6 separate regions of the Homo sapiens genome follow, and all the other regions are reported to be linked to region 3. The links are microRNA targets in miRTarBase. Many come from high-throughput screens and were not tested one by one. Region 3 holds a microRNA gene; each other region holds the end of a gene's coding sequence. Distances are between the middles of the regions.
What was found. The annotated mature microRNA hsa-miR-4436b-5p reads GUCCACUUCUGCCUGCCCUGCC and lies in region 3 at 1,740-1,761, shown strand. An mRNA with a match to its seed (bases 2 to 7 or 8) in the 3' UTR can be bound and repressed. Matches are read on the target gene's strand: a 7mer-m8 pairs with bases 2 to 8, a 7mer-A1 pairs with bases 2 to 7 and ends in A, and an 8mer does both.

Region 1 (3,000 bases), not on the chromosome of region 3:
CCTAAGGGATCATTTCTGCTACTATACGGTATAGAATCAGAACTGGACTCTTAACATTGTAAATTTTTTTGTAAGTCATAAGAAAAAGTCTAGTTCTTCTGGTAGACAGAAAATAGCTGGGAAAACTGATTTACTGTTTGATATATGTGATTCTTCTTGGGTTTAGCCACCTTTCCTAATTTTCCAATATTTTATTTTCCAGTTTTGTGAGACTGTGAAGATAATTATTCGTGATCAGAGAAGTGTTCTTGCTTCAGCAGTCTTGGGATTGGCGTCTATAGTCTGTACGGGCTTGGTATCATACACTACCCTTCCTGCAATTTTTATTCCATTCTTCCTATGGATGGCTGGCTAACTTCATACCCCCATGTCAGTGTGTGTATTCTGTATGTAAATATGTTTATATTTATAGAGCATCAATCAATATAAGCATTATTGAGAAAAATGTGACCCGTAACACTGTGTTCTGGATAAAAATGTGATTAGGAATCACGCAAAGTGCTTACTGTGTAAGCCCAAGAACAAAGGCTTTCTGAATCTTCTCAGGCAGTTCAGATTTAAAGCACCATCCAAACCTTGGAAATACGACAGGGTGTGGTAGAATTCAGCAATATGAGAAAACCAGCCCCTAAAATGATAGCCACAAGAGATTAATTGTGTTTTTTTTTCTCCTGTAATCCTTGTACTGTTCGGCTGAATTTGAAGATTGGAAGACTTATATTGAGACCAGTAACTTTACTGTAAATTTACTTTGTTTCATTGAAAAAACAAATTGATAAACATATTAAACTGGAAGAATTTTCTTTATTCAAATGAAAACATGTTTGATGACTGGTCAAAAAATAAGCTCATAATCTATTTTTTTCATGTAGTATATAAGTCAAGAATGTTTTATTGTCATTATGTGAAACCAATATTGGCAAATAGTACTTTAATGATGAAGTAAATGACCAGAAATTATAGAAATCTGTGTTTTCCTGTAAAAATAGCACTATAGTATCACTTGAACAATTTGATTTGGCTTTACTTACTAGGAAGCCTGGAATTCATTATTTTTTTCCTTTTATGTGCCACTGTGGCTACTTTAAATCACTCTGAGAGGTAAATGGATATAGGATTGAAGTTATGTGGGTATTTGGCATGTGTGTGTGAAATAAATATGTAGATAGTCACATATACACAGACTGAGAGATAAATTGTTCTTGATTGCTTTATTATCATCATACTAGTGTGTTCATTATAGAGTATCTGTAGAGGTGAATGTAAAAGTAAGTCCAATCTATTTTCTTATGTCATTGAATTTGTAGTGTTAACTTGCATATATGTTATTGGATGGGTTGTCTTTTAAAGCATTTACTAATGTACTCTGAAATTTTTAAAAGCCTTCAGATTTGTTTTCTAGTCACTTTTTTCCATATCATTTCTAATTATAGTTTATATCCTTAAAAGAAGGATGCCACAGTAGTATGTAAAACCCAAACAAGTAGAACCCAAGCAAATAAAATTATTTAAAATAATTTTAAAGTGGCTTAGTACTGCCAGTCATGTAAATTGATTCTGCTGAGGGTCTTATAAGAATTGAGATATAACAATGGTAAAACAAGCATTCAAGCACTTTTACAAAATTACCAAATTCTTAAAATGAAGCCACAGCTAGACTTGCATTTCAGGTATTAAAATTGCTTTCTTAACTGTCAAGAATCACAAAATAACAAATCATATTATGAGTGAATATGGGGAGGGCGGGGCCAATCAGTCAATGATAATCTGAACAAATTTTAAGAGCAGATTTTAGATTAATAATGTTTTATCACCACTAATTTGCCCACAACAAACTCAGTATTTAATTTTTCAAATTAAATATTAAATTATTTAAGTATTTTAAATAATTAAAACATTAAATGGCAACACCATAGAATATAGGTGTTCTCTGGACCTATTCTAACCACTTAAAATTATCTTAAGTATGCATACATAAAAGCAACCACTATGAGAACTACCGTGTTAGTGGTTTTTCACTTACTGTATATTACCCTTGTAGGAATAGTTTAAGGAAATTCATTTCTTAAAAATATAGTGTCCTCAAATAATTAATTTTTTTGCAAACTTTAGTTATTACAGGCAGCAAAAACCACTGTCTGAAACTAAATCTGTGTTCAAAGATGAAGACCCCTCATTAAAAGCCAAGGACGTTCTTAAGATTGGAACTGACATAATTAGTCTTGACTTACTTCATTAAAGCAAGATTCAATTCCTTGTTCATTTGAGTGTTCATTATATGCCAGGCATTGACCAGTTGCAATTTTATGGTCCAGAATTAATATTATTATTCGTAAACTAGCTATAATAGAGTATATACAGTGCTGTGGGAATACAGGGGAAGAAGCAATTAAATCTGCTAGAAGGGTAAGAGAAATCTGTATGCAGGAGGCAATGCTAGCATTAAGCCAAGAAATAGTGTGAGGTGATCTTATCACACTGATGTGTTCAACTGTTTATGGGAAAAGGAAACTAGGATGGTTTTATTTGTGAAATGTTCTACAACGCTAGAACTGTTGAACTTCTTGGGAGAAAAGGAGAATCTTTGTTTTGTTGTGCTGAGTTTGATTAGTTGCTTAACCAAGTAGAAAGAAAAGCACATCTTCCTGATCACAGTTATAAAAGAAACCCTGAGGCCGGGCGCGGTGGCTCAAGCCTGTAACCCCAGCACTTTGGGAGGCCAAGGAGGGAGGATCACAAGGTCAGGAGATCGAGACCATCCTGGCTAACACGGTGAAACCCCATCTCTACTAAAAATACAAAATTAGCTGGGCGTGGTGGCCGGCGCCTGTAGTCCCAGCTACTCATGAGGTTGAGGCAGGAGAATGGCGTGAACCGAGGAGGCGGAGCTTGCAGTGAGTGGAAATTGCGCCACTGCACTCCAGCCTGGGCAACAAAGTGAGACTCCATCTCAAAAAAAAAAAAAAAAAAAAAAAAAAAAAAAGAAGAAGAAACCCTGAG
Region 2 (3,710 bases), 90 Mb from region 3:
CGCTGGGAGGCGTTCGACGTGGCGGACGCCATGAGGCGCCACCGTCGTGAACCGCGCCCCCCCCGCGCGTTCTGCCTCTTGCTGCGCGCAGTGGCAGGCCCGGTGCCGAGCCCGTTGGCACTGCGGCGGCTGGGCTTCGGCTGGCCGGGCGGAGGGGGCTCTGCGGCAGAGGAGCGCGCGGTGCTAGTCGTCTCCTCCCGCACGCAGAGGAAAGAGAGCTTATTCCGGGAGATCCGCGCCCAGGCCCGCGCGCTCGGGGCCGCTCTGGCCTCAGAGCCGCTGCCCGACCCAGGAACCGGCACCGCGTCGCCAAGGGCAGTCATTGGCGGCCGCAGACGGAGGAGGACGGCGTTGGCCGGGACGCGGACAGCGCAGGGCAGCGGCGGGGGCGCGGGCCGGGGCCACGGGCGCAGGGGCCGGAGCCGCTGCAGCCGCAAGCCGTTGCACGTGGACTTCAAGGAGCTCGGCTGGGACGACTGGATCATCGCGCCGCTGGACTACGAGGCGTACCACTGCGAGGGCCTTTGCGACTTCCCTTTGCGTTCGCACCTCGAGCCCACCAACCATGCCATCATTCAGACGCTGCTCAACTCCATGGCACCAGACGCGGCGCCGGCCTCCTGCTGTGTGCCAGCGCGCCTCAGCCCCATCAGCATCCTCTACATCGACGCCGCCAACAACGTTGTCTACAAGCAATACGAGGACATGGTGGTGGAGGCCTGCGGCTGCAGGTAGCGCGAGGGCCGGGGAGGGGGCAGCCACGCGGCCGAGGATCCCCAGCTGATGAGCAGCAGCGGGCCACCCTGTCACCGAGCGTGGGTGCATGTCCGATGTGACCCAGCACCCTCTCAGAGGAGGGAGAGCACACGTTCACACTCACACACACTCGTGCAGTCACGCACACATTTACCGGGGACAGCATGTGAAAGCCTTGGGAAGAGATGACCTGCCGGTACCGAATGTCAAAGCCCTGTGTATTTTGCAAACAGATAACCATGGCGCCCACTGCCCCCATTTAGGGAGAGGAAGGTGTTTGTGCTGATGTTGCAGTTAGAGGCACGAAAATCAGGTAGCAACAACGGGTTAGGAAATTCGAAGTTCCAGAATGGGAGAACCAAAGGGGTACTCGAGCATGCTTTATCTCACCCCCTTTTGTTTCTGGCCCGATGTGGGGCATCGCTTCCCTGGGGGGCTGAGCGCCGCGTGGTGCACTCCGTGACCCACTGCAAGGCTGTAATGCCCTTCCCGAGGGTTTGTGTTGCATGGGGCCGTTTACCCTGGAACTGCTGCAAAAAGCATCTTTCTTTTTTTAACTTTTAAAATTTAACGTGCCCCTGCTTCATTTTTGAAAGGGAAGTTTTGTCTGAAAGTAGCTGTTGTGGAGCTTCCCAGATTTCTGCAAAGGTCGGTACCGCCACCCCCCCCCCCCCCCCCGCCTTTTTTTTTTTTTTTTTTAATCAATTCCAATAGGAAATGTTATGGAAAGTGGAAAGGATATTTTTCTTTTAAACGGCTGAGTCTGATCTAACAGGATATTGGGGTGGGATAGGATCTGCCAGGTTCGGAAGCTCCCCAGTTGGTCAGGGGGAGGTGGGAGCCATGCCTCGGGTGGCTCAGGAGGAAGTTAGTGCAATGGCCCGGAATGGGGAAGGTGGGGCTGGGGGAGGGGAGCTACTGCTTTTCCTAGAGACCTGCCAGGAGGTTTTCCTAAGAAGCCAGGGAAGAGGCTCTCAGGGCTTGAAAGGCAAGGAGGTGTCCTGGGGCCCACTCCAGCCGAGGACTCCGGCTTGCCGGCCAGGTAGGCGGAAGCTCCCGGGGCCGACTCGGGCTTGTGCTAGTTATCAAGTAAGTCGGCCTCCGCTTTTTACCTGCTTTCGCTGTGTTGTTGCTGTAGTTGTTGGCAGTGTGATAGTAACGGGAAGTGAAGCCACTCAAAAATGCTTTTGTCAGACTTCAACTCACAACCCAGACCTTTAGAGCAGGGGGAAGGTCTGCCCCTTCCCCTCATCGGCTCCCTGGCTTGGCTGCTGTGCCCTTGGAAGGGCAGGGCCTTGGTGTGGGGGAGCAGAGGTGGAATATCCCCCAGTTCCCTTATTTGGCCCCAAAGGGTCTTATTGATGGGAGGATTTTCTAGGCATGTAAAAGTGAGTTCGAACATTCAGACTTCACTGTTTGATTTGATTTGTTTATGCCTGGGAATCCTTTGTGGCTTTTTGTCAATAGGCTGGGAGAGGGAACCTAGTTGGACTCCAGCTGTCCGGGGTGGGGGCTTCTTAGAACAGCCCCGCAGCCCTCTCGGTGCATCTGTGTGATGTTGTGTAGGACTTTCCCCTTCAGAGTCCTGGGGAGCATTATTTCCACCCTGTGTTGGATGCAGGACAATTCATACACATTTTGATTCTCAGTGATTACACTCTTGAGAGAGAGAAGACAGACTTACGATTTAGATACAGCTAATTTACTTAGGGGCCCTACCTGAATCGGTTTTCATCCTGTAAAATTCTCCCAAAAGAAAAAAAAATACACGTGTAAATTACTCTTAAAATTAAGATTCCCCCCTTCCTCCTATTATGTGAATTTATATTCTGTGGCTGTATGAGTAGCTATAAATAACCAGAACATGAACAGTCTCTTCAGGTTAAAAATTTTAAAAATATCCAAAAGTGGCTGCTCTGGTACAATTCCATCTTATTTTAGTGACTGGGCAAAGATGGTCCCTAAATTTGTGGATTTTGCCAGAGATGCCTCACTCTCGTTTTTAAAATGAAGCTTGTCATAATGAAGAATTATATATTAAAAAAAGCACTGAAGTGTTGAAAGTTGTAGTATTAGAAGGTTTAGAAAGGAAGTTAATGACAAAGTGCAGTTAAATGTTATTTTGAGGAAGGTCTGGGGTATTTAATATCTTTGGATAAAAGCAAACATTTTGATACTTTTTTAGTGACTAGTAAAAACAATTTTTTGGGCAGAAATGTCTTGATTTAGCCTGGCCTTTTTATAGTAGGGAAAAAAACTGTCAATTTCCCCTCTTTCCTTCTGATGACCTCCTTCTAACGAGATGTGTTGTGAGTGGTGTGGGAAGTAGGTACCTTCCTGCATCTTGAGTTCAGGTGGCACCCGGTGGGAGGGGTGTTGTCCTTGGACAGTGACTGTTCCTTCCATGGCCCCATACCCTCAGTGTGCTCTTTGTTTACTGGATAAAAGGAATGCTTCCCAGATTTCCTCTGGAGCAGGTGAAGCCCCCAGGGGCCACTCTGCCCAGCCCTCTGGCATCTCAGTCCATTCACTAGGTGAATGCAGAGGATCCATTTCACTTGTAAAAATGACAACAAAGGGCCAACACATGTGGGGCAGACGGCTTTTTGCTGCTAAGATGTGGTTTAACTAGCATTGCCAAGGTGTGGAGAAAAGCGTTCTGCCAGCACAGTTGGTAGTAGCACCCTGAGCTCTCTGTCTTCTAGGTAGCGGGGGACAGGCCTGGGTGACTGGCATGAACCCAGCTTCTCTGTTGCAACCCCCAGCTGGAATCTCCAGTCACCATGGATGGGAGAACTGACAGGCAGGGAGAAAGCATGTCAAGACTGTGAGGAAAGGCTGTCCCCTCAACCCCAACCTGAGGTCACCAAAGTCTCCCTCCTAAAGTAAACAGAATTTTCCATTTTGTAGGGAGAATTGTGCACTACTAGTTGACATCACTTGAACCAGGATTT
Region 3 (3,710 bases):
TGCTTCCACATTTTCAGGTATCTTTATAGCAGTGCCTGACTCCTGGTACCAATTTTCTGTATTAGTCTGTTCTCACACTGCTGTAAAGAACTACCTGAGGCTGGGTAATTTATAAGGAAAAGAGGTTTAATTGGCTCACAGTTCTGCATGGCTAGGGAGGTCTCAGGAATCTTACAATCATGGTGGAAGGCGAAGGGGAAGCAAGGCACACCTTACATGGCAGCAGGAGTGAGAGAGGGAAGTGTCACACTTTTAAACCATCAGATCTTATGAGAACTCCCTCACTATCACGAGAACAGCATGGGGAAACTGCCCCCATAATCCAGTCATCTCCCACCAGGTCCCTCCCCCAACATGTGGGGATTACAATTCGAGATGAGATTTGGGCAGGGACACAGAGCCAAACCAAATCACACTGCAAAAAAAAAAAAAAAAGGCAGGACTCTAGGGGGCTGGCCTGCCTCATTTGCTCATTCTTTACTGCTATGTAGCCAGAGAGGAAAATGTTCACCTGATTGATGTGGCCATGCGTGGCTCTGCTCTGCATTTCCAGGACAGCCTGTACCACGGGACCACTGGCATCCTGTACATGAGCGCTGCCGTCCTACAAGTACATGCCACGATTGTTTCTGAGAAACTGCTGGACCCAAGAATTTACTACATTAATTCGGCAGCCTCGGTGAGTGGGCTGGCCAAGGACAGCAGTCTTGCCTGGAGGATGTTTCGTGCAGGAGGCCTAACTTTGCTTGTGCTGTATAGACCCTGAGCCCTCAAGTGGAAGGAGCCATGGGGGCAGGGGATAGGGATGTGTGTCCCTGTAAACATGTGCACCCACGTTCAGGGGTCCTCTTTTACCTTCTATTGTTCCCACTCCAGCTTTCCTCTCTCTTAGACACCCCCCACGCTGTCTGCAGAATTTTCTTTTTCCAAAACACAAATTGGAACAGATGTCTCTCTCCTACTGAAAATCCTTCAATGGCACCCACTGCCTTTGGAATGGGGCCCGCATCCCTCGGCATGGCTGAACTATTGAGAGATGAAGCAGGGAAGGGGAAAGTGGAATGTCGAGGTCTCAGGGGAGGAGGCATCAGGGAAGGCCCTGTCAAGAGGACAGAAGGAGGCAGGGGCCACCAGGCAGTTACCCCTGCTAAGGTCCCACCAGGCAGTTACCCCTGCCAAGGACCCTCTGTGTGCTCAAGGGCAGCCAGGAGGGTGGTGTAGCTGGGACAGCTGGCCATGGAGGATTGCAGGGGCCGTTGCTGGTCTTGCAAGTTTAGGAAGTTAAACTCACCTGATGAGGAGGGAAGGGAGGCAGACAGGCCAGAAGGCAGCTGAAATATCTTGTGGCCACCCCAGAGGGTCACAGTGCACTCCACAGTGGGTGGCATTTACCTCCATCTAACCCATGTATGTGCTACTCATCTATCTTGCTGCTATCTGCTTCTTATCTCTCAAATGTAAGCTCCATGAGGGCAGGAATTTTTGAATATTTTCTTCACTGTTATACCCACAGTTGCTCTTGAAGGAAAGCAGGTCCTTAAAAGATATTTGTTGACTGACTGACTGAATGAGGAGCGTGTGAGTGGACAGTGGGGCAGAGTGGGGCTGGGATGTTTGGCAGGGCCTGAAAGGTATTGAAGGTGACGGCCCTACCCTGAGAAAAGAGCAGAGCCATCATACAGCTTCAACGTGGGGCAACGGGATTGTGTTCTCCCCATGAGTGAGAAGTGTCCTCACTTGTCCACTTCTGCCTGCCCTGCCCAAATGGTGGAGCAGATTCGAGGGGCAGGGCAGGAAGAAGTGGACAAGTGAGGCCATGAGGAGTCCTGCCGAGGGATGCCGGTGGCTGAGACAAGGGAAAAATGAATGTCCCAAGAGCTAGGCAGGGAAATCAGTAGCCTTTGGGGTGGCTTTGCATATGGCTGGCAAGGGAGGCAGGAGGAGCCAGGGGCCACAGGGGTCAGGCTCAGGGAGTGGGGCGAGAGGAGGACCCTGGGGCCCACTGGGCTTGTCAGGCTTGTGAGGAAACGTCAGGGGCTCAGTGTGAGCCAGGAAGAGCTGGAGGATGTCTGAACATTCACGAGGAGCTGATAAGCAGCCGCTCAGGGCAGAGTTCTGGGCCAGCGAGGGGAGCTGTAGGAGTGTTCAGAACACAGATTTGCTGGAGGTGGGCAGAGGAGAGCGGGCCTCGGGCAGGAGGTCAGCGTGGGATATGGGCCCAGAGCTGTGGTGGAGGTGAGCCTGCTTCACAGCCAGGTGCAGATGAGGTGGAGACTGCAGTCGGGGCAGGACACCAGGACGGCCCCAGGGAGGCCCTGATGGAGAGTTTCCAGAAGAGGGAGTTGTTGGCCAGGGGTTGCTGCCCTCAGGCCACGCAGGAGGCGAGGAGGCAGGGTCATGCGTGGCCTCCTGGGCAGTGGGGCTGAGGGTACCTGAGGGGTGGGCAGGAGCTGGCGCTGCTGTCTCTAACAGTCACTCTCCACCTCCTTCCAGTTCTTCGCCTTCATCGCCACGCTGCTCTACATTCTCCATGCCTTCAGCATCTATTACCACTGATGCACAGGCGCCAGGCCAAGGGGGAAATGCTCTTTGAAAGCTCCAATTATTGGTCCCCAAAAGCAGCTTCCAACGTTTGCCATCTGGATGACAAACGGAAGATCCACTAAAACGTCCACGGGATTAACAGAACGTCCTTGCAGACTGAGCGATGACACCACACTTTGTTTGGACATTTAAATTCACTCTGCTGAATAGGAGGAAGCTTTTCTTTTTCCTGGGAAAACAACTGTCTCTTGGAATTATCTGACCATGAACTTGCTCTTCTAGACAACTCACATCAAAGCCCTCACTCCACTAATGGAGAATCCTAGCCCCACTAATGCCAAGTCTGTTTGGGGATTTTGCCTCAGCTATGGGCTTCCCTAGAGTAGGTCTAGGGGAATACTCAGTCTGATCTTTTTTTTGTTTGTTTTATTTTGTTTTTTTTGAGACGGAGTCTCGCTCTTCCTCCAAGGCTGGAGTGCAGTGACGCGATCTCCACTCACTGCAGGCTCCGCCTCCCGGGTTCCCGCCATTCTCCTGCCTCAGCCTCCCGAGTAGCCGGGACTACAGGCGCCCACCACCGTGCCCGGCTAATTTAGTTGTATTTTTAGTAGAGATGGGGTTTCACCGTATTAGCCAGGATGGTCTCGATCTCCTGACCTCGTGATCCGCCCGCCTCGGCCTCCCAAAGTGCTGGGATTACAGGCGTGAGCCACCGCGCCCGGCCTGATTCTCTTAAAATTGAAGAGGTGCTGCCAAGGCCTTCAGATCTAACGCAGATGCATAGACCTTGTTCCTGGTACTTGTTCAGCCTGTGCTGGGGAGCCGTGGTCCCGAGTTCCCTGGGAGGCTGACAGGGTCAAGCCACCCTGCCCACCACCCTCCCACTTCCCCTCCCCTTTCCTCTCCAGCATTAGGATTCAAGGGAAATTTGCATGAAGCCAATTTTGAGGGTAGACGTGTGGGGAAAATAAATCATTATACAGTAAGACCTGGGGCTTGAGGGGTGGGGAATGGGGAGGGAAGGGCATAGCCTGCTCCTCCATGAGTCTGACATCTCGGAAACTGAGCAGCTGCCGGACGCCTGGGTCAGGAATCCAAGACCCCACCTCTTAAGGACTGGTTCCTCAGAAAGCACCCTCAGGGAAAAAGGTGAAAACATTACATCC
Region 4 (3,710 bases), not on the chromosome of region 3:
GCAGGAGAATTGCTTGAACCCAGGAGGCAAAGGTTGCGGTGAGCCGAGATTGTGCCATTGCACTCTAGCATGGGCAATAAGAGTGAAACTCCATCTCAAAAAAAAAAAAAAAAAGGAAGGTGGCGGGGTTGAGCACATTGTCAGTGGTTAGGGTTAAATCACCTTTTTCTAATAGGATAGCTTCATATTTTAGGATTCTTGAATCTGTAAGCCATCTCCCTGCTTTTTGGCTAAGAATGGTTTTAACCTGATGGGGTGTGCTTAGGATGAGACTTCCCCCAAAGGTTATTTTTCTACTTTCCTCTGTCAATAAAACAGTTGCTGCTGTAGATTGGATACATTCGGGCCACCCACAGGTTACCACGTCAAGAATGTTTGACAGAAAGGCTGTGGGCTGGCAATGGCCCCATGCTTTTGAGTGAGTACTCCTATAGCTGCCCCATTGCTTATATTAACAAAAAAGTGAAATGGCTGTTCTAAGGATGGCAGAGCTAAGACAGGGGCAGTTATAAGTAGATGTTTTAGTTCCTCAACTTGCTGGACTTCTTGTGGGGTCCAAAGAAGGGGGTCAGGCCCTTCTTGGGTAAGTTTTAGATATAGAGGTTTTGTTTTTAAGGCATAAGAGTCAATCCACAGGCAATAATTTCCAGCTAGCCTGAAGAATTTTCTAAGTTCTTGTTTTGTCTCAGGCAGTGGCAGGGATATGATCCCTTCCATTTGTTCGGGCCCTATCTTCGGCTTACCTTTGCTTATTAAGTGCCCCATGTGTTTTACCTCAGGTTCTACAAGCTGGAGTTTACTTTTTGAGACCCGTAACCATTGTTCCCTTAGGAAATTTAGAAAGCTAATTAAAATTGCGGTTACTTGGTCTTTGGTGCCTCTGGAAATGAGCAGGTCATCCACATATTGGAGTAGACATAAGGATGATGAAAGAGGGAAATTCTCTAGGACTTGTTCCAAACTTTGACTAATAGGTTTGGAGAGTCTGTAAACCCTTGGGGTAGAACTGTCCATCACTACTATTGCTTCCAACTGGAATGAGGGTCTTCCCATTCAAAAGCAAATATGTCCCAGCTATCCACAGCTAAGGGGCAAGCCCAGAAGTCATCATTGAGGTCTATTACTGTGAACCACTGGCAGTCATGAGGGATCTTGCTGATAATGGTGTAAGGGTTAGGAATGACAGGGTGGGTGGTCTGGACTATTTGGTTAATGGCTCGAAGGTCTCGCAGTAGCCGCTATGACCCATCCGACTTTTTTACAGGCAATATTGGAGTGTTGTAAGAGGACATATGGGGTTCAAGAAGTCCTTCCTGAAGGAGACCTTCGATTATAAGTTATAAACCTATTCTGCCTTTCAAGGGAATAGGGTACTGTTTTCTCTTTACAACTTCCCCAGGATTTCTTAATTTTACATGGATTGGAGAAACTTGTAATTTTCCCCAATTTCCTTCCTATGACCAAACGTCATCAGAGTGGATTTGGCTCTCCTCTAGGGTGGTAAGTAAGTTTAAGGAAGTAGAGAATTTTCCTTGATTAACGTATAGACCTATACCTAATTTTGTCATTAAGTCCCTCCCCAACAGGTTTGTCCCTGCTTCTGGAATTAACAGGAATTTGATGCTAGCTAATTAGTCCTGATACCTGACTTTGCAGAAGCCCACAGGCTGAGGCCAGGAGGTGGTGCTGGGGAGGAAGGCAGAGAAGATGAGTGATCAAGAGAATGCCAGAACTTTTCTCTTACTGTTGTTTTACCAGAAGCCACTTAATACAATCAGACAATTCTTTAAGAAAACTGCAGAGTGCCTTGTTCTTCCAAGAAACTTGGTGCTGAAGAGATCTAGGAAAATGTGTAAGTGACTGTGTTCTAAGAGGCATTTTTTTAAAGAGTTTGACTGGTGTTTGCCAGTTTCTGGCTATTATCTCTTTCACAGGTTCTAGAATATAGGTCTTATTGGCCTACTAGCGCTAACCTGTTGAAGTTTATTGATGAATCTGCAGGGTGCCTGTGAGGAGAGCTTCACAGAGATGGCCAGACCCTGGTGAGAGAGAGTGACATCAGTGTCATTTTACACCCTGCAAAGGAGGGGCCGTATTTTCGCATGAGAAGAAGGCACATTGGTGATTGGTGGTATTGAAAGCTTATAGCAAGAAAAAGTTCTGTTAGAAGAGCTTCTGTTTCTCAGAGCTCCAGAAGCTTTCTTCTGGGAGACCCTTAATAGCATGACCTGCCATCAGGAGAGGAGGCTCAGACAGCTTGCTTTTGATTCCTGGTGAAGGGTGGGTTTGTTCCAAGTAGGAAAAGCAGCTTCTACTGAGGCAGGGACTCTACCTCCCCACTCTTTACAGAGTCCCAGAAGCTTATTGCTGATAGGGACGTTACCCTGGCTCAAGTCCTTCATGGAAGAGACCAGGAACTAATGGCCAGGAAGCCTAAATTACTTAGCAAATGTTTGGGCCAAGCCATGATTTGGACTCAGCAAGTCCAGAGATCCTGCCTTTACATCATCATCTTTTGTTTTCTGGAGTGCTGGTAGGTTAGATCCCAAACTCTGAAGTACTGTCTGTGTTAAAACACTTTTTCCCCATCCCATTTTGAGCTAGCCTCTTCCTCACCAGGCCCATGCCCTTTCTCCTAATTCGCTTTAAAGAGGCAACAGCATGCAGTGAAAGGACCTCTGAGTTTGTATCAAACAGACCTGGGTTCAAAGTTCTGCTTCCCTGTTTCATAGCTATGTAACCTTAAGCAACTCACTTACCATCTCTGAGTCTCTGTTTCCTTGTCTGTAAAACAAGGACAACAGTTAACTTTCTGGGACCTAGCATTCAATAGGCACTCAATCAGTGAGCATGATTCCCTAAGGTGGAAGAGTTTGTATCACCTTCGGGATTTCCAGTGGGTTTAGGGTGTTTTCTGCCATACTCCCAGTAGACTCTATACCTTCTGACTACCCTGGACCATAAAGGAGCAAATAAAAAAGACTCAAGACTGAACACAACACAGAAATGGGTCAAAAGAAAGCTCTTTATTGATTGACTCAGCAATGCAGGGCTGGCACCCATCAGCTTCAAACCACATCTTATCGCATCCACTCCTGTCCACTCCCGTCCACTTTGCCCTCTTCCAGGCTGAAATCTTGCTTTCAGGCAAGGGCTTCCGGCCAGCCTTGCATTAGTTCTCAGCTATGGTCTTCTGAACCCAGTGCTGGATGGAAGTCACCTTCACATACACACCATACTCAGCCACAGCACAGCTCTTATCAAAGCTTAGGATCCCAGCCGCGTACCAGGTGTCCTCCTCCAGGTCGTGAACGGCAAAGGCACTGCCCGCATCGCCATAGCAGGTGTCTTCCTGGTACTTAGACATGCCGACACAGAAGGTGTGTTCGTTCAGTATGGGCTGCACCCCTACAGGGCTCTTCGGTGCCTTCCATTTGGGGCATGTGCTGCCTTCATAATGCGTTATGCAATCGTATTGGTCAGCCACAGGCAGCATGACATACTTCAGATGGTCAGTAAGTTTAAAGTTGTCACTTTGTCCCCAGCCAGACACGTAACCCACACGCCCTACTTCTGCATAATTCTTTGAAGGTAGGCAGATGGGCATCACTCTCTCATTAACAAGCACCTTCTGTTTGAGTTTGATGAGCCCAATATCTACCTGGTGGTAGTTAGGGTGTAGAACCACCTTCTCAATCTCTACAAGCTGC
Region 5 (3,680 bases), not on the chromosome of region 3:
GGACAGTACCTGTTTAAGTGTTTGATAAACGTTAAGAAGGAGGTGGACGATGCCTTAGTGGAGATGCACTGGGTTGAGGGCCAGAACAGGGATCTGATGAACCAGCTTTGCACCTACATACGTAACCAAATTTTCAGGCTTGTTGCAGTTAACTAGAAACCTCCTGCACAGTTGGAAACGTGTTGATAGTAACTTGCTTTGGAGTGGCCTGTGGGGTGGCAAGAGGAATCCTACCAGCGGCCCATTAGTAGCACGATGTGGAATTATCTTCGAAAACAAAAACCTATGAATCTGTCCCCCACCTCCCCCCGCCTCCTTCCCGCTTTTTGAGTTACAGGGAGTCGTAGTGTGGTCATTTACAAGGAGGAATTGTGGTCATCAGTAACAACAGAAAGCCCTCAGTAAACTCCCGAGGGATTGCAAGCTGGCTCAAGCTGGCCCCTCAGCTCTGGACTGCCTCTGCAAGGTCAGAAGGGTTGTTTGTGGAGTCTGGGCTGGGCAGCACTGCCTAGAATATCATGCTGTCTCTGTCACCCAAGGGTGTTTCTTGAGGAGGGGTGGCTCTCTCTGCCTCCAGCTGGAGGCCCTGGTACCCTGTTCTAGGTCACTCTTCAAGATGGGGCCTACCTTGCATCAATCCCACAAAGGGAGCTGTATGGTGGGTGGTGGGGAATCTGGGAGAGAAACCTTAGTAATGCTGGGAAGGAGCAGCAGAGTCTGGGGACCACCCGGTAAATGGCACATTCCTGACACCTGGCTGTTTTGATGTTGCTTATTTCAGAAGCAGAATTAGGTAAGCAAAACTCCCCGGTGTGACTGAGGCACACAGAAGGCACCCATACCCCCACCTCCAGCCTGTTGACAGTACCATTTTGTAGCAGTTTTACTACTGTGTGATTTTTGTTTGGACATCTGAAGTAGAGCTTGTTTTGTTTTTAAATAAGAATATTCACAAATTAAAAACCAGCGGTCCTATTTGAATCCTGGGGTTAGCTGAGTGAGCGGCTGATGATAGAAATGAGAAATAGAACAAAATAGTATGTGCCGTAGGTAGCTTAAGAAAGTCTCAGATATTTTGTTGCTGATCAAATACTGTTTTTTTGTGGCTTCACTTGTAATCCCCCCTGTACTTACCTACTCACATTGGAGAGTTCTGAGGCCGGAGTAACTGTGTCCTTGAAACACGTTTCTAATTGGAATGCCAGGGTTCAGTAGCCGTCCCCCCGGAAAGGGGTGACCTTTTGCTGTGCTTGATGTTGCATCAGCAGCCTAGGGTTCTGTTTAGACTAAAATCTTGGCCAGAGCTCCTTGCCATCTGCTAAGAAGACTGGGGCTGAGTAGTTAAGCCAGCCTTCTGAGAGGTGGCTGTTGGTCAGGACGGGAAGCTGGTGACCTTGGCATGTCTTGGCAGCAGCTAGATCAGGCCCTCGGCAGAGACACAGGAAGCGGAACTGCTGTGCCTTAACTTGGCTGTGGAGCTGGAGCTGGAGAAGGCAGCATACTGACCAGTGGCTTTTTGATTGATTGTTTGTTATGAGGTGGAGTTTTACTCTTGTTGTCTAGGCTGGAGTGCCGTGGTGCGATCTTAGCTCACTGCAACCCCCGCCTCCCGGGTTCAAGCGATTCTCCTGCCTCAGCCTCCCAAGTAGCTGGGATTACAGGCACGCGCCACCACGCCTGGCTAATTTTGTGTTTTTGGTAGAGATGGGATTTCACCATGTTGGCCAGGCTAATCTCGAACTCATGATCTCGGGTGATCCGCCCACCTTGGCCTCCCAAAGTGCTGGGATTACAGCCGTGAGCCACTACTCCCAGCCTCTGACCAGTGTTCTTAACCTGGTCCGTGGACCTCCAGAGAGTCCATGTACCTCCTAGAGTTACTTCTAAAAGCTCTGTGAGCATGTGTGTGTGTGTGTGTGTGTGTGTGTATTTTTTTTCCTGGAGAGAGGGTTCCCAGAACCCTCAGACACAGACAAAGGGGTCAATAACCCACTAAGGATTAAGAATCATTATTCTAGTCCAAGCATTCATGTGTCAGGCTGCAAAAAACAATACCCAGGGTCACACAGAGCCAAGACTCAATTCAGGACCGTGGATTCCCCTGGTCTAGAAATTTTCTGCTGTGCCAGCCCACACCACCCCACTGTCCTTACCTCGAGTGAATATTACATTTGAGTCATTTGCTGGGCCCAAACCTAGTTTCCTTGGTATAATTTTAGGATAATTGTTTAAGTGGCAACTATTCATTCAGTAAGTAGTAAGTACTTATTGTTTGCTTGTTTCATTATGAAAGAGTGGCACATGCTCATTAAAGATTTGGAAAAATGAAAGTCAAAACAACAAAATCACCCCGAGTCCCAACCTTCTGTAACATAACCACTCTTGGCATTGGCGTGTTCCTTTCTAGTCTCTCTGTAGACGGGGTGTGTGAGTGTGTGGGTTTAACTTTGGTTGTCCTCATGCTGCGTATTCAGTTTTGTATTCTGGTCCTTTGTTCATTTAACATCTTACAAGTATTTGTCCATGTTGTAACAGTAGTGTATTAGCTTACACTCCTTGCCTGTTCAAAATGTCTTTCAGGCACAGCACTGGCCTTTAAGCCTGTGTCGTAGGGATTTCCAGAGAATGCTCTGTGTATTGAAGCACAGAAGGTGTTTCTGTGTCTCAGTGTGTTTCTGTCCCTAGGTTTAAGGCTTCATGTCATGGAGGAGATTTTATAGATGTCAAGCTAATGACCTTAGAGTTTTAAAAAATCCGTGACCGTGGCCAGGCGCAGTGGCTCACGCCTGTAATCCCAGCACTGTGAGGCTGAGATGGGCGCATCGCATGAGGTCGGGAGTTTGAGACCAGCCTGGCCAACATGGCGAAACCCCGTCTCTACTCAAAATACAAAAATTAGCCGGGCATGATAGCACGTGCCTGTAATCCCAGCTACTCGGGAGGCTGAGGCAGGAGACTCGCTTGAACCTGGGAGGTGGAGGTTGCAGTGAGCCGAGAATGCCACTGCACTACAGCCTGGGCGACAAAGTGGGACTGTCTCAAAAAAAAAAAAAAAAAAAAAAAAAAAGGAACCCATGAGCAGGCCAGCTTTCAGTCTGGAGCCGAGTGCCTTCTGTGCATTTGGATGTTTCCATTTCCTTCCCTGAGAAGATTTTCTTAGGCTACCTAGTGAGAGAACATTGAAAATATTTTTAAAGGACATCTAAGCATTGTTTTGGTCATGCATATGCTTTATAATTGTGTGTTGTTTCATAGCATATACCTCTGGTACAGGTGGGCAAGTTTTTCTTTGAAGAAATGGGTTATTGACTCATATGTCATAACCTTGAGTGTTACTCTCCCGGTGTCCAGAGGTCACATTCATGTTGCGGGGTTGGTATGAAATTAAATCTTGGTGATGTGACCCTACATTCTCTTCTGGTCCCTAGAATCGGCTTCTGGTCTCCTGATAACTGAAGTGGAGACAGAAGTTGAGCCTGTTGCCCAGGCAAACTAAAGCTGCTTTTGTTCTTCGGAATCTGCTTTGCCTCCGTCAGCCTGCTTCCTTCCCCACACATGCTGGCCGCACTGTCCCCACTCCAGACCTCTGCTGTGTGTCCTGGGCAGGGCCGCGTTTTGGCAGTACCCTTTCAACTCATCCTAAGCTTCGTGTAGATTACTTTAGTATATATTTTTTATAA
Region 6 (3,000 bases), not on the chromosome of region 3:
GGGATACAGAAACTAGGGCTAAAGGACTTTGGGGTCAGGCCTTGCTTGCATAAAGGAGAAAACAACTCTATGTACATGCTGGGGGAGAGTGCCTAATGTGGGAGACCAAATAGGGATCACCAGGCTAATGGGGGGCGTCAGCAGCTTTCTCTCCCTCCTATCTTGGCCTGTTCTTTTTTGTTTTTTGAGACGGAGTCTCACTCTGTTGCCCAGGGTGGAGTGCAGTGGCATGATCTTGGCTCACTGCAACTTCCACCTCTGGGATCAAGGGATTCTCCTGCCTCAGCCTCTTGAGTAGCTGGGATTACAGGCGCCCACCACCACAGCCTGCTAATTTTTGTATTTTTAGTAGAGATGGGGTTTCACCATGTTGGCCAGGCTGGTCTCAAACTCCTGACTCGAAGTGATCCGCCCACCTTGGCCTCCCAAAGCGTTGGGATTATAGGCATGAGCCATGTGCCTGGTCCACCTTGGCCTGTTTTGTTTTTCTTTCCTTGGGCTCAGCAATTCAAATTCTAGTTGTTATTTGGTGGAAGCAGTAGCCCAACCCCAGTTTAGGGGAAGGTAGCACAGGGCAGAGCCACTGGGCACTTTGTTTCCTTGGCCCTCCGAAGCTCACTGTTGCAAATACCCCCAAGCCTTTGCTCTAGGCCAGATCTTGTTTGGTGCAGGTGATGGAGAACACAGATGACTCGGGCATGGGTCTTGGAGATCTTCTGTTCAAAGTACAGTGCTGGCACTGGGGCACAGAGTGCCCACGTTAGCCCCGGGCTCTGATAGAGAGGTAGGAGGCACGTTCTTGGTCACTGTTCCATTGCAGACCAGACTTGCTGGCCTGACCACAAGGGAGTGGCTGGGAACTCACAGCCAGCATAGGGACATCCCCCTGCAGCCTTCTGACCTGCAATCAAGGCTGGGGAGGGGTTTGCAGGCAGGAATATGCTGACCTTTCACCCTGCCATCCCATCCCAACCCCAGCTCACTAGCCTTCATATATGCCTTATACTTGGAGTCACAGGGGCCAAAGGCCTGAGACCCCACCCTGCCCCCAAACTGGCTAAGACAGCTTTCAGTTCCTGACTCCCCAACTTGGTCTCTGCCCTGAAGCAGGGCACTGAACTCTGGGCTGCTTCTCTGTGTGTAAAATGGGCACATCTTCCTAATCTGTTAATGGTCAGTGGTGTCCCCAAGGATAGTGCTGGCTTCCATGGAAACCCTCACTCCTGGAGATTCCATTCCATTTTCAAGTGTACAGCCACAGCAAGGAGCCCGACACTGATTTGATCGATTCTGTGACACAAACCCCACCAATTGTTAATGCAAGTTTTTATTTGGCTGTATATACAATTTAAGCTATTAAAATTTGTACAATATTTACAAATTAAATAATCATCTGAAACTGTCTCCAACAACTCTTGTAACACAAAACCAAGGGGAAAAGACAGGGGCAGGCAGGTCCCAGCTCCTGTGGTCCCTCCTTGGCACAGAGCCTTTTCTAAACTGGAAAGACCAGGAGTCTGGCACTCCTGTTCCTCTTTCCCGGGATTAAGCATTCAACTTCAAAAGACAAAATTTAAGCCAAAAGACACTAGTAAGGAAGTAATTCCAATTCTAAACTTCAGAAGTTCTGCCAGTTGAGAAGTGGCCTTCCTTGGGCGCTGGGATTGCAGTGGTCAGGAGCAGGCGCACTGGCCCTTGCCTGGAGTGCGGCTGGGCAGTGGCTGCTGGGTGAGACAGGTCAGTCTCACTTGAGAAGCTGCAGAGGAAAGGGGCCTGGGGGGAGGGGCGGGGCAGGGTCCCTCAGTGCTGCCCGCCTGCACCCCCACTCCCAGGCATTCCTTTCCCTGAGTTGTGTGGTTGCCAGTAAGACGCAGAAATGCCACAGGGCATAGGGGGCACAGCCACCACCACAAGAGGCTTCTGGGGAGATCAGGGTAAGAAAAGGAAATGGGTACCAGTCTTAGGGGTGGGCCAGCGAGCAAGTTCATAGCTTGCCTCCAGCCCCTCTGGAGTCCACACTTGGGAACGGGAGCTAATACTGTTCGGCACTGCAGTGTGACTCCGCACATACAAGTAGGGCTTGGAGGGGCAGCCCCTTCTCCTGGAAAGGGGTGGGGGAAGAAGAGGGCTTCTCAGAGGCTAAACCTTCTGCCTTCATGGCCCCAGCAGAACACAGGGCTGAAGAGTTGGAGAGGAAGGCTGGAACTGACCCGAGATCCCCATGGCTGCCTGGGACTGGAGTCAAATGGGAACCCCAGCCTCTTTCCACTTGGCCTAGGGGATGCCGCCTCTTTCTCAGAGCTGGGGGTACTACTCCCTGGTGCAGACAGAGAGGGAGCTGGCACTTGGTGGCAGGACATGTTCCAGCGAGGGCTGCTCAAAAGAGCAGAGGCTGGGGCTGGGCTGGGGCAGTGTCAGTGGGCAACAGGAGACTCCAGCTTCTGCAGGCGGCGCCGGCGGAGCTCTGCTGCATCGGGCTCTCCATCCTCAGGCATCTCCTCTGTGCCCACTGACTCAGGAGCTGGGGACAGAGAGACTGGAAGTGGAACCTAGAGAAGTTCCCTGCTCCCCCGGCTGGAGGCCAATCACACCTACCTGGAGGCCTTTCCATTTCAGGGGCTGGTGGGGAGGCTCCTGGGGTTGGGGTCGTGGCCTCTGAGCTAGGGATGCTGGTGGAGGAGGCAGCAGCAACAACTGTAGTGGCAGTCTCCTCAGTGGAGTTGACTGAAGTGGCAGGCCGGGGGGGCCTGGGAAGAGAAGGGACGAGAGGCGGGCCTGGCCTTGGCATCCAAGGTTGGGCAGATTCTCCTGCCCTTGGTGAGCCTTGCAGAACAGAGTATAGAATGATGTGCCCTTGTGGCCCCAGTGCCTGGCAAACACAAGTGAACATGCTGAATGAACTCAGACAGGGTGACTGGACTCAAGGGCCAAATGATTCTATCCCTTAGCTGTAAGGTGCTTGCAGGCAGGGACTGTTGACCTGTTCACTCTTACCCTGCA

Region 1: miRTarBase lists LRAT as a target of hsa-miR-4436b-5p. Seed matches in the 3' UTR shown: 7mer-A1 at 2,898-2,904.
Region 2: miRTarBase lists GDF7 as a target of hsa-miR-4436b-5p. Seed matches in the 3' UTR shown: 8mer at 1,484-1,491.
Region 4: the mRNA of HPR is a reported target of hsa-miR-4436b-5p. Seed matches in the 3' UTR shown: 7mer-m8 at 3,109-3,115.
Region 5: the mRNA of METTL16 is a reported target of hsa-miR-4436b-5p. Seed matches in the 3' UTR shown: 7mer-m8 at 3,456-3,462.
Region 6: the mRNA of SYVN1 is a reported target of hsa-miR-4436b-5p. Seed matches in the 3' UTR shown: 8mer at 2,264-2,271.

The regions. Positions count from the first base shown.
Region 1 is chr4:154,748,782-154,751,781 of GRCh38, forward strand. It overlaps LRAT (lecithin retinol acyltransferase), which reads left to right. Exons shown (of 3, transcript NM_004744.5): 3 at 203-3,000. The coding sequence ends at 355. Among named protein-coding and RNA genes, the nearest start is that of LRAT, 6.3 kb to the left of the region's middle.
Region 2 is chr2:20,670,691-20,674,400 of GRCh38, forward strand. GDF7 (growth differentiation factor 7) reads left to right here. Exons shown (of 2, transcript NM_182828.4): 2 at 1-3,710. The coding sequence ends at 735. Among named protein-coding and RNA genes, the nearest start is that of GDF7, 5.4 kb to the left of the region's middle. RefSeq lists an enhancer at 1-450.
Region 3 is chr2:110,283,126-110,286,835 of GRCh38, forward strand. It overlaps MIR4436B2 (microRNA 4436b-2), which reads left to right and starts at 1,728; the gene lies at 1,728-1,818. It also overlaps the pseudogene LOC128966597.
Region 4 is chr16:72,076,544-72,080,253 of GRCh38, reverse strand. HPR (haptoglobin-related protein) reads right to left here. Exons shown (of 5, transcript NM_020995.4): 5 at 3,008-3,710. The coding sequence ends at 3,173. Among named protein-coding and RNA genes, the nearest start is that of HPR, 15 kb to the right of the region's middle.
Region 5 is chr17:2,416,446-2,420,125 of GRCh38, reverse strand. METTL16 (methyltransferase 16, RNA N6-adenosine) reads left to right here. Exons shown (of 10, transcript NM_024086.4): 10 at 1-3,680. The coding sequence ends at 156. Among named protein-coding and RNA genes, the nearest start is that of MNT, 17 kb to the right of the region's middle.
Region 6 is chr11:65,125,968-65,128,967 of GRCh38, forward strand. It overlaps SYVN1 (synoviolin 1), which reads right to left. Exons shown (of 16, transcript NM_172230.3): 15 at 2,596-2,747; 16 at 1,312-2,521. The coding sequence ends at 2,415. MRPL49 (mitochondrial ribosomal protein L49) reads left to right here. Exons shown (of 4, transcript NM_004927.4): 4 at 1-1,404. Among named protein-coding and RNA genes, the nearest start is that of MIR6751, 2.5 kb to the right of the region's middle.